Regions from separate parts of the Homo sapiens genome. Here region 2 is linked to region 1. Evidence: fine-mapped expression QTL. A gene starts in region 1. The other region holds a variant in brackets. All regions are shown on one strand. Distances are between the middles of the regions. Region 1 holds the start of RFK (riboflavin kinase). Region 2 overlaps PCSK5 (proprotein convertase subtilisin/kexin type 5).

Region 1 (5,377 bases):
CCTGTAAAGAGTAGGGCAGAAAAGTATACCCTCAGGTGGTTTAAAAAGGAAAGAGAAAAGCACCAATGTGGGACTGTATCAATAAGCACCATCCTCCATCCACCATCCATGTAGTAAACTGTTTTATCTTAAGAGGGTGACCAAGCGCAATTGATGCATGAAGTAAATGGTGAATGAAGTGCATTAATTGTGGCAAGCTCAATTTTATGAAACAGGCTTTTAAATCATTTTTATCTTTGGTCAAGTGAGTCTTTCACAGACAGCAATTATCAAAGTCAGTATTATAATTTTGGTTTGTAACTCCACTCTTTATTTTCTACATAATTTAAAAAATAAATGCATAAAAAAACCAATTATTAATCTTTGTTATTGGGTACCACAATGTATAAGGATGTAATCTGAGCCAGATGCAGGCAGTGGCATGTACCTATAGTCCCAGCTCTCTGGAGGCTGGAGGAGGATTACTTGAGCCCATGAGTTTGAAGCTACAGTGTGCTACAACCTGGCCTGTGAACAGCTACTGCACTTCAGTCTGGGCAACATAGTGAGACCCCATCTTTAAAAAAAAAAAAAAAGATGCAATTTCTGAGTTCTGTATGCTATTGAAATTAAGTTGGTATAAACTCAAATTAAACTTTTAGAATTTCAGGATGTTAAATATAAACCCCATGGTAACCACAAAGACAGTATCTATAGAAATACACAGAAAGCAATGAGAAAGGAATTAAAATGTCACTACAAAACAAAACAAAACAAAAAGCACACTACCACAAAAGGCAGTAATAGAGGAAATGAGGGACATAAAAGTTATAAGGCATATAAAAAACAAATAGCAAAACAGTAGATGTCCCTCCTTATCAGAAATTACTTTAAATGTAAATGAATTAAACTCTCCAATTAAAAGACAGAGATTGCCCAAAATTCCAGTATTTGAACTACGTTGTGATTACCACTGATAAGCTATTTCTGTAACGAATACTGTAATATATTATTCTAAGTCATCATACCATTTTCGGTTACAGAGCAAAATATAATGCTTACCATAGACTTCTTCGTATTCTTGTAATATGGGTTCCATCCTATGCTCACCACCATCTTATGGACATCTCCACTTCCAACACTGGCCCAACCATAGTAAATACCAGTGGATATATCAGCTGGAAGATTATCTACCACTTGCTCAGGAAAATTAGCTAAACAACAGAAGAAAATATTTTGAGTCTTACAAATTTCGTATTAAATGCCTGTAGCCGAGTGCAGTGGCTCATGTCTGTAATTCTAGGACTTTGAGAGGCCAAGGCAGGAGGCTCATGTTGAGCTCTGGGGTTTGAGACCGGCCCGGGTAACATAGTGAGATCTTACCTCTATTAAAAAATTAGCTGGGGATGGTGGCCTGCACCTATAGTCTAAGCTACCAGAGAGGCTGAGGCAGGAGGGTCAGTTGAGCCCAGCAGATGGAGGCTGCAGTAAGCTATGATCGCACTACCACTGCACTCCAGCCTGAGTGGCAGAGCCAGATTCTGTCTCAAAATAATAATAAGAAACAAACATTTGTAAAAATCACATGCAAGGCTAATGTAAATCATTACATTCACAAGACTCCTACAACTTTGCCTGTAAGTATCAATCCCATCCTTCCATTTTCCGGCTCAGATTTCCCTCTCCTATTCATGTGAATAGGTTATGAATAAAGTACCAGGTAAGTATATAAAGCTCTCCAAAAAAATCCATACTCTTTGAGTAGGATGCAAAAAACAAGTACCAGAGTAGATGGATTTTTTCAGATCTGTTCTTTCCTAACCAGGTACTGAATCACCTGAAAAGTTTCTTTCTTTTTTTTTTTTTTTTGAGACGGTGTCTCACTCTGTCGCCCAGGCTGGAGGGCAGTGGCACGATCTCGCCTCACTGCAGCCTCCGTCTCCTGGGTTCAAGCGATTCTCCTGCCTCAGGTTCCCGAGTAGCTGGGATGACAGGCACGCGCCACCATGCCCAGCTAATTTTTGTATTTTTAGCAGAGACGGGGTTTTACCATGTTGGCCAGGCTGATCTCGAACTCCTGAGCTCAGATGATCCGCCCGCCTCGGCCTCCCAAAGTGCTGGGATTACAGGCGTGAGCCACCACGCCCGGCCAAAGCTTCTTATTTTTCAAATACACAAGCTCAAGGCTGACTTAACAAGTCAAGACGCAGCTCTGGCATGTATTTCTAAGGATGAATTACAGTCAGGTCTCGATTATTGAAATTAATGTAGACAGACCAAGAAGGTTAGCTGACTCTCATTCAACTACCTATGTTATCATTTGGACATTACATAATTACAAATTAAAAACAAAACCACCTTAGACCCGGCTTGCGAGTTCAGCCGTTCTGGCCCACGTTACGTCTCTAATGGGCAAGACAAGCGCAATGCTTGACCAACTGTACCTTGGCTGGCCAAGGAGGCGTGAACGGGGAATCCTGCGATTCATCTCGGGCTTCCGGCCCTCACCACCCCTCAACCCCGTCCCCGCGGAGCTCGGAGCCAGAAGCAGGGACAAGCTCCCTCAACCGAGCCAACGGTCCTCCGCCACAGACAAGGGGATGCGGGAGGAGGAAGGGTGTGCTCTCTGCCCGCGGTCCGGAGGCCCCACGCCCCGGTCCCAAGTCCCCGGCTGCCGTCTCTCCCCGCTCCCCACGTGACCCGGCCCGGGGGACTCTGGCCGCCCTGCTCTCACCTGTGGGGATGCCCAGCTGCTTGGAGCCGCGGCCGAAGCCCCGCACCACTTGACCCCGGCAGAAGTAAGGCAGGTGCCTCATAATGCAGTCCGCTCGGGGAATGGGCTGCGGCCCGGTCTGCGCGTCCTGCGGAGCCGCCGTCGACGCGGCGCCCAGACCCCGGACCAGCCGGGGGACAGGAGCGTGAGCTCTGCCTGCCGCGGGGGCGCACCAGTGGCCGGACGACGCCGACCACAGGCCACTGCGAATCCCTGACGCCGCCGACCCAACAAATACCGCCGGGCGCCTGAGGAGCTGCGTCTCCGCTGGAGGGCAGCGGAGACAGCCGAAGTAAGTGCCGGGTGTGAGCGGGGTGGGGGGAGGGGGCGGCCCGAAGCGCAGAGCCGGCCTCCGCGCCGCCGGCGTGCGCTCCCTTCCTCAGCCGAACGCCTCGAGCCCGCTCGGCTTCCGTAGCCCCGCCCCATCATGGCCCCGCCCCGCCGCTGCCTCGCCCGGCTCCCGCCGCAAGCTCCCGCTGCAGGCTCCCGCCCCAGGCGCCTAATGTCTGGATCCCGGGCTTCGTTTCAGCCCCTGGCGATGGGAACTAATGTGGAAACCCCGTTTTCAGCCTGAGAGCCGCGAAAGCACAATTCTCGAACAATTCTGGTTTTTTTTTCTCCTTCCTCCTGTTCATAACAATCCGGAAGCCAAAGTGAGACGCTCTTTAGCTCCTTGGCAACCGCTGGGTTGAACGTCAGGCATCGCTCGTTCCGTTCGCTCTTTAAGTATTTATTAAAGCTCCAAAATTCAGCTCAAAGATCGCCTCTTCACAGAGGCTTTTCCTGGCCGCCCTACCAGAAGCGGTCGTCCTCCAGGACCACTGACCACGTTCTGGAGTTATTAATATATTCGAATGTAAGCTCCAAGGGAGAAGTCCCTGTCTGTGACGCTGTTAACCCCAGAGACTAGTGGAAGGTTACCGACATGGGCGGTGACTGTCCCCTCCAGGCTGTCTTCTTGACAATTTCACAAGCCCGATAACAGGCCGTCCCTCTACTGCAATGCAGATAGAGGCCTTCGTACCCTCGGAACTGTAAATACGCACGCTCCTAGGGAAGTAGCTCTGGGCTCACTCACAGGATATGCAGGGTGCAAGGTTATAAGAAGGTGCATCCTCTTAACGTCTCGAAGACAAAGAAGTTTTTTATTTATTTTTTTAAATTTTTAATCAATGGAATCCAGAGAAGTTTAATTTTTTTCTTTTTTGCTCTATACATTTGTATAAAATTCTGTGCAGACCGTGTAGTCTCTTTCTACCTTACATGTATGCATCTCTGATAAGATTTACCTGATATTAAATTTATGTTCTAGGCCAGGCTTGGTGGCTCACGCCTGTATTCCCAGTAGTTTGAGAGGCCGACGCGGGAGGATTGATTGAGCCCAGGAGGTCGAGGCTGCACTGAGCTATGATAACGCCACTGCACTCCAGACTGGGCGACACAGTGAGACACCCTCACCCCTTAAAAGAACTAGAGAAGAAGAAGGAAGGGAGGGAAGGGAAAGGAAAGGGGAAGGGAAAGTGAAAGGGAAGAAAAGGGAAGGGAAGGGAGAGAAGGACCCAAAGAAGCAATTATGGTCAGTTACTTATCTATACGGAATTAAACAAAGAATAATGAGAATAACGATAATAGTAATACCGGTAGTAAGAGTAGTAATAGCAAGTTGTGAAAAGCAATTAAGTTATCTGGAGAGGCTTAAGAGTTATTTTAGCAAGGTGTGTACAGGATTCTCTCACTCTTGACTCCCGTCCTTAATAAGAGTGCTGCATTCCTTCTAATATAGGGAGGATGTCTCTCATATGGTAATTTCATCTGCTTCTAAGAAACAGAAAAGAGGTCAGAATGATTTTTTTGTATCTATTGTTTTTCAAGTGCTTTTAATTCAAAATAGTCAATATGCAAGAATGGTATATTTTTAACTTCATCAGCAGTGATACACCTAATAAGAAAAGCCTGGAGGTGAGAACTTGATAAATCATCCCTGGGTCTTACGCCACTAAGCCCTAGGTTGCAAGAAGGTATGAGAATTAAATGAGATAAAATAATTAAATGAATCATAGGAGGTAAATGAGGAGGGGTGGTTTTAAGAATAGAGAAAATGCTAAGTATTTTTCACACTGTCTCATGTAATCCTCTCATCAGCTTTGTTGGAAAGCATTAACCTAAACGTATAAAAATGGGCGGGGCATGGTGGCTTACGCCTGTAATCCCAGCACTCTGGGAGACCGAGGTGAGCGGATCTCTTGAGCTGAGGAGTTCAAGACCAGCCTGGGCAAAATAGGGAGACTTCCGTCTATCCAAAAATTTTAAAATAAAAATAAGTAAGAAAGAGAGAAAAAAGAAAGAAAAGAAAAGAAACAAGAAAAAAAAGAAGAAAGGGGAAAGAAAAGAAGAGGAGAAAATAAGAAAGAAAATTTTAAAAATCAGCCAGGGCCTGGCACAGTGGCTCATGCCTGTAATCCCAGCACTTTGGGAGGCTGAGGCCGGTGGATCACTTGAGCTCAGGAGTTGGAGACCAGCCTGGGCAACATGGTGAAACCCCGTCTCTACAAAAAATACAAAAATTAGCCGGGAGTGGTGGCGCTCACCTGTGGTCCTAGATACCCTGGAGGCCGAGGCACAAGA
Region 2 (5,377 bases), 41 kb before region 1:
TAAAGGTTTTATAAACTTTCTACATGATTTCTCATTCTCTGAAACTCTTTCCTCTTGCTGTAATAAAAGATCTGTCATCCCCAAATCCTCAATTTTCAGACTGAGAGTCTACATAGATTGAACTAATTGTATAATTTCTACTTTGTGTGGGAGACTTTTTTCTTTTTCGTATCCTCAATCAATTCACCCTTCTGCTTCAATTTACTTGACATATTCCTTGTTCCTAAGTGTTCCGGAACAAAGACAGAAGTTGAAATCTAAGGTCAATCTCATAACTTAGAATGTTTTCTCTTTCAGGAAAAGGAGCGTTGAATTGTTTATCCTGTGTGTGGAGTTACCACCTCATGGGAGGGATCTGCACCTCGGACTGTCTTGTGGGGGAATACAGAGTGGGAGAGGTATGGAGGGCTGGGGGTCCTGGGCCTTCTGCTCTTTCTAGAGGGAAACATGAGCTTACTTCCTGCATGTCATTCTGGGCAATCAAAATGTCCCAAAATTCTCATACTATAGAAATAGTGTATGTTTAGTATTTTAAAACCTTCTACCGTTGCATCATGGAATAATGGTGCTACCCACCTGTAGCCTTAGCTTTACTCAAAAGGAACTGAGAAGATCTAAGATAATGGGGAAGTTAAGTCGTGAGGGCCTCGGAATGAATTCTACATTTGTTATTCATCACCATAGAAGTTTCAGTCAACATAAGAATACTATGTCAGAATACAAACTACCTTCTCTCTTACTTCTGTCTGGTCTAAGCAGAAATGTGTGAGTAACATAGGAACCACACAGCTAATGTTGGTCTTTTGCTTCCTTTACCACTTTACAGTGTATTAAGAAGAATTCATTTGCAGTGTTACAGCTCTTTAGAATTTCTGGTTTCTACCAGAAACCGCCCCCCCCTGCAATGTGAAAGAAAGGAAAGAAAGAAAGAAAGAAAGAAAGAAAGAAAGAAAGAAAGAAAGAAAGAAAGAAAGAAAGAAAGAAAGAAAGAAAGAAAGAAAGGAAGGAAAGAAAGAGAAAGAAGAGAGAGAGAGAAGGAAGGGAAGGGAGGAAGGAGAGAGAGAAAGAAAGAGAAGAAAGAAAAAGAAAGAGAAAGAAAGAGAGAGAAAGAAGAAAGAAAGAGAGAGAGAAAGAAAGAAAGAAAGAAAGAGGTAGGGAGGGAGGAAGGAAGGAGATTCATTTGCCATGGATTTTCTGAAACCATGAATTTTTTTTTTTTTTCTTTGAGACAGGGTCTCACTCTGTCACCCAGGCTGGAGTGCAGTGGCGCAATTACAGCTCATTGCAGCTTTGACCTCCTGGGCTCAGGTGATCCTCCCACCTCAGCCTCCTGAATAGCTGGGACTACCATGTCACTGGTCTACACCACTTACCCAAAGTTAGCCTTTGGGTTGGGGGTTCCCTCGCTATTGTCACTTCTGTGGTCACCAGAAAGATGCTACTGGAAAGGGGTCCCAGTCCAGACCCCAAAAGAGGGTTCTTGGATCTCACACAAGAAAGAATTCAGGGCAAATCCATAGAGTAAAGTGAAAACAAGTTTATTAAGAAAGTAGAGGGATAAAAGGATGGCTACTGCATAGACAGAGCAGCTGTGAGGGCTGCTGCTTGCCCATCTTTATGGTTATTTCTTAATGATACGCTAAACAAAGGATGGATTATTCATGACTTCCCTTTTTAGACCATATAGGGTAACTTCCTGATGTTGCCATGGCATTTGTAAACTGCCACGGCGCTGGTGGGAGTGTAGCAGTGAGAACCATCAGAGGTCACTCTCATTGCCATCTTGGTTTAGGTGGGTTTTGGCTGGCTCTTTACTGCAAGCTGTTTTATCAGCAAGGCCTTTATGATCTGTATCTTGTGCCAACCTCCTATCTCATCCTATAACTTAGAATGCCTAACCATCTAGGAATGTAGCTCAGTAAGTTTCAGCCTTATTTTACCCAGCCCCTATTCAAGATGAAGTTGCTGTGGTTGAAATGCTTCTGACCACGATGCCCAGCTAATTTTTTGTATTTTTAGTAGAGATGGGGTCTCACCATGTTGCCCAGGCTGGTCTCAAACTCCTGGGCTCAAGCCATCCACCCACCTCAGCCTCCCAAAGTGCTAGGATTACAGGTGTGAGCCACTGCGCCCGGCAAGACCACAAATTTCTTGATTATGTTTTCGAACTTTAGATAATAAGTAAATCTCCCCATGATGAAATTAACACAAACTAACATATTTACATATGAGCACTCTTTAAATTCTGGCAACAGCCGTCATTACAGTTTAGAGAAACTGAGGCTCAAAGAGGTTAAACAATTTGTTAAAGATTACAGCCTGGGCAACATGGTGAAACCCCATCTCTACAAAAAATA[CA/C]AAAAAAAAAAATAGCTGGACATGGTGGCACATGCCTGTAGTCCCAGCTACTTGTGGGGCTGAAGCAGAAGGATCACTTGAATCCGATCACACCAGTGCACTCCAGTGTGGGCAAAAAAGTAAGCCCGTCTCAAAAAAAAAAATTATATGAGTGCTAAGTAACAAAGCTGGGATTAAACCTGAAGGATGAGATAATATGTGAGATGCAGGATTCAATGAGATAATAACAGCTGAGAAAGCACCTTGTCTGTGCCTGAAACATGCCAAGGTGCTCAACAAAAGCAATTTCCATTCCTTCTTCTTTTTCTGTCATACCATACTTCCAAAGTTACAGAAGTAAAATAGGAAAGCATCTTCCCTAACCCACATTTCCAGCACCAGTCAAGGAGCAACTTGTCGGGAGGGAAGCCACTTTCTTCTCATCTCTCCACTCTCTTCCCAAAGAGATTTAACTACTTGAGCTACACAGCCACAACCTATATTATTCTGCGGGCAGACCACAATAATCCAGTAACCACAGAGGCCAAGCAGGTCACTAACATAAATGCTGGGTCAAAGAAAACCACAGTGTAAGCTTGATGCTTGAAGGAAAGTGGAAATTGATGTATCACCTACATGTTGGTGACATAATAGCAAGTGCTGGGGATTATGTCAAATAGAAGAGTGGAAAGAGGGGTCATCGCCACGTGGGAGTGATGAATCCAGTGTTGACAGGTCTTCTAGTTTCTAAAGAGAAATTAGGAACAAATTTACATGTGAAATATCCCACTTTTGAGATGCGGGAAATGAATGCAAAATATTTTAAACTGAAAGTCAACAGTGTGGGCCAGACAAAACTAGTCCTTGACCTGAGCTGTCCTTGAGCACAGGAGCTGTCAGCTCCTAACCCAAACTGTTCTAGACGTCTGCTCTCCCACTGTTATTAGCAGATCTCAAAGGACAGGGCCCAGCCGTGATTCCACCCCATCACAGACAGTTGGTTCTTTCACCCAACACAGTTAAAATGGGCTTAGAACACACCATCCTTCTGCTGTCCCCCACACATCTCCCTCCTTATGAAGACAAGATGAGATACAATCTGGGAACTCCAGTGCCTTGTTAATCCCTTTACACTCAAAAGGAACCTCTTGATTGCTCTTAACAGGGAGAGAAGTTTAACTGTGAAAAATGCCACGAGAGCTGCATGGAATGCAAGGGACCAGGGGCCAAGAACTGCACCTTGTGCCCTGCCAACCTGGTGCTGCACATGGACGACAGCCACTGCCTCCACTGCTGCAACACCTCTGATCCCCCCAGTGCCCAGGAGTGCTGTGACTGCCAGGACACCACGGGTGAGGGAAGAGCAAGAGCAGCCTGCAGAGGAAGGGCATGTCCTCAAGAAGCCAATGGGAGCAGAGGGAGGGGGGGATGGAAAGTTCAGGAGAATCAATATGGCTACCTTTTTATTGAGTGCCTACTATGGGCCTACTGTACTTGAAACTTCATGACCATTGTCTCACTTCACAAGTAGGGATTATCAGTCCCATTTTACAGATGAGGAGACTGAGGCTCAAAGAGTTGGATTCGCATGCCAAGTCCATACCAATATTAAAAGTTTCATCTGGGGACTAGGCGTGGTGGCTCACGCCTGTAAATAATCCCAGCACTTTGGGAGGGTGAGGCAGACAGATGGCTTGAGTCTAGGAGCTTGAGACCAGCCTGAGCAACATGGCAAATCCCTCTCTACTAAAAATAAAAAATTAGCTGGGCGTGGTGGTGCATACCTGTAATCCCAGCTACCAGGAAGGCTGAGGTGAGAGGATCTCTTGAGCCCAGGAGGCAAAGATTGCAGTGAGCTGAGATCGCACCACTGCACTTCAGCCTGGGTGACAGAGCAAGATGCTGTCTAAATTTTTTTTTAAAAAATGGTTCATCTGGAATTAGATTTTCTGCTTGCCTCCAAGACTAGAACTCAAGTAGAGCTAGCATTTTATCTTTATGAATTTACTTTGTTCCTTTTTTTATTCTTCCCTCTTGGGAAAAAAAGAAAAGAACTAACTATCAAGGAAGCTGATGTCAATATTATCCTGATTCTGTTGAAGAATCATTCTATGAAAGTCAGCCCAAACCTAGGCCTCTCAGAGACTTATGACATTTTAGAAATGAATTTTTATTGAAGGCTAAGAAGTAAAACCCCCTTTACCAATTTCCAGTCCCTCAGCTATCCTCACGTCTAACCCCATCCATGTGGGTACTTGGTTCTCATTGGTCACAAACTTAGAAAGATCTCAAACTGACTGATTCCTTCTAAAAAAAGAAACATGGCCGGGCGCGGTGGCTCACGCCTGTAATCTCAGCACTTTGCGGAGCCAAGGAGGGCGGATCACAAGGTCAGGAGATCGAGAACGTCCTGGCTAACATAGTGAAACCCTGTCTCTACTAAAAATACAAAAAAATTAGCCAGGCGTGGTGGCGGGCGCCTGTAGTCCCAGCTACTCAGGAGGCTGAGGCAAGAGAATGGCGTGAACCCGGGAGGCAGAGCTCGCAGTGAGCCAAGATCGTGCCACTGCACTCCAGCCTGGGTGACAGAGCGAGACTCCGTCTCAAAAAAAGAAAAGAAAAGAAAAAAAAAGAAACATATATTCTTAAAATATACTCTCTAGTCCAGAAGTAGATAATTTCCTTGGGGTTCAGAAGTGACATTCACTGACAAAAAGCGATGCCATATTTGTGAGTTGGTCTATTTGTAAGTAAAGAAAATCCCAGACCCATAACTGCTACCAGCCATTTCTTTTTTATTTTTGATTAGCATTTTCTTTCTTTCTTTCTTTCTTTTTCTTTTTCTTTTTTTGTTTTGACAGAGTGTGGCTCTGTCACCCAGGCTGGAGTGCAATGGCACAATCTCGGCTCACGGCAACCTCTGTCTCCTGGGTTCAAGCTATTCTTCTACCTCAGCCTCCAGAGTAGCTTGGATTACAGGTGCCCACCACCACACCCGGCTAATTTTTGTATTTTTAGTACAGAAGGGGTTTCACCATGT

Evidence for each region. PIP is the estimated chance that this variant, and not a neighbour inherited with it, causes the effect.
Region 2: its variant is the best candidate, but not a certain one, in a credible set for the expression of RFK in whole blood (INTERVAL, PIP 0.77).

What each region holds. Positions count from the first base shown.
Region 1 is chr9:76,391,377-76,396,753 of GRCh38, forward strand. It overlaps RFK (riboflavin kinase), which reads right to left and starts at 3,050. Exons shown (of 4, transcript NM_018339.6): 1 at 2,714-3,050; 2 at 1,042-1,193. The coding sequence starts at 2,795. It also overlaps a transcript of GCNT1 not described here. RefSeq lists enhancers at 2,321-3,134, 2,997-3,291, 3,469-3,708 and silencers at 2,499-2,988, 3,029-3,108, 3,129-3,188.
Region 2 is chr9:76,350,531-76,355,907 of GRCh38, forward strand. It overlaps PCSK5 (proprotein convertase subtilisin/kexin type 5), which reads left to right. Exons shown (of 38, transcript NM_001372043.1): 36 at 298-398; 37 at 3,503-3,689. Among named protein-coding and RNA genes, the nearest start is that of RFK, 41 kb to the right of the region's middle. The variant CA/C (reference allele first, on the strand shown) is at 2,358.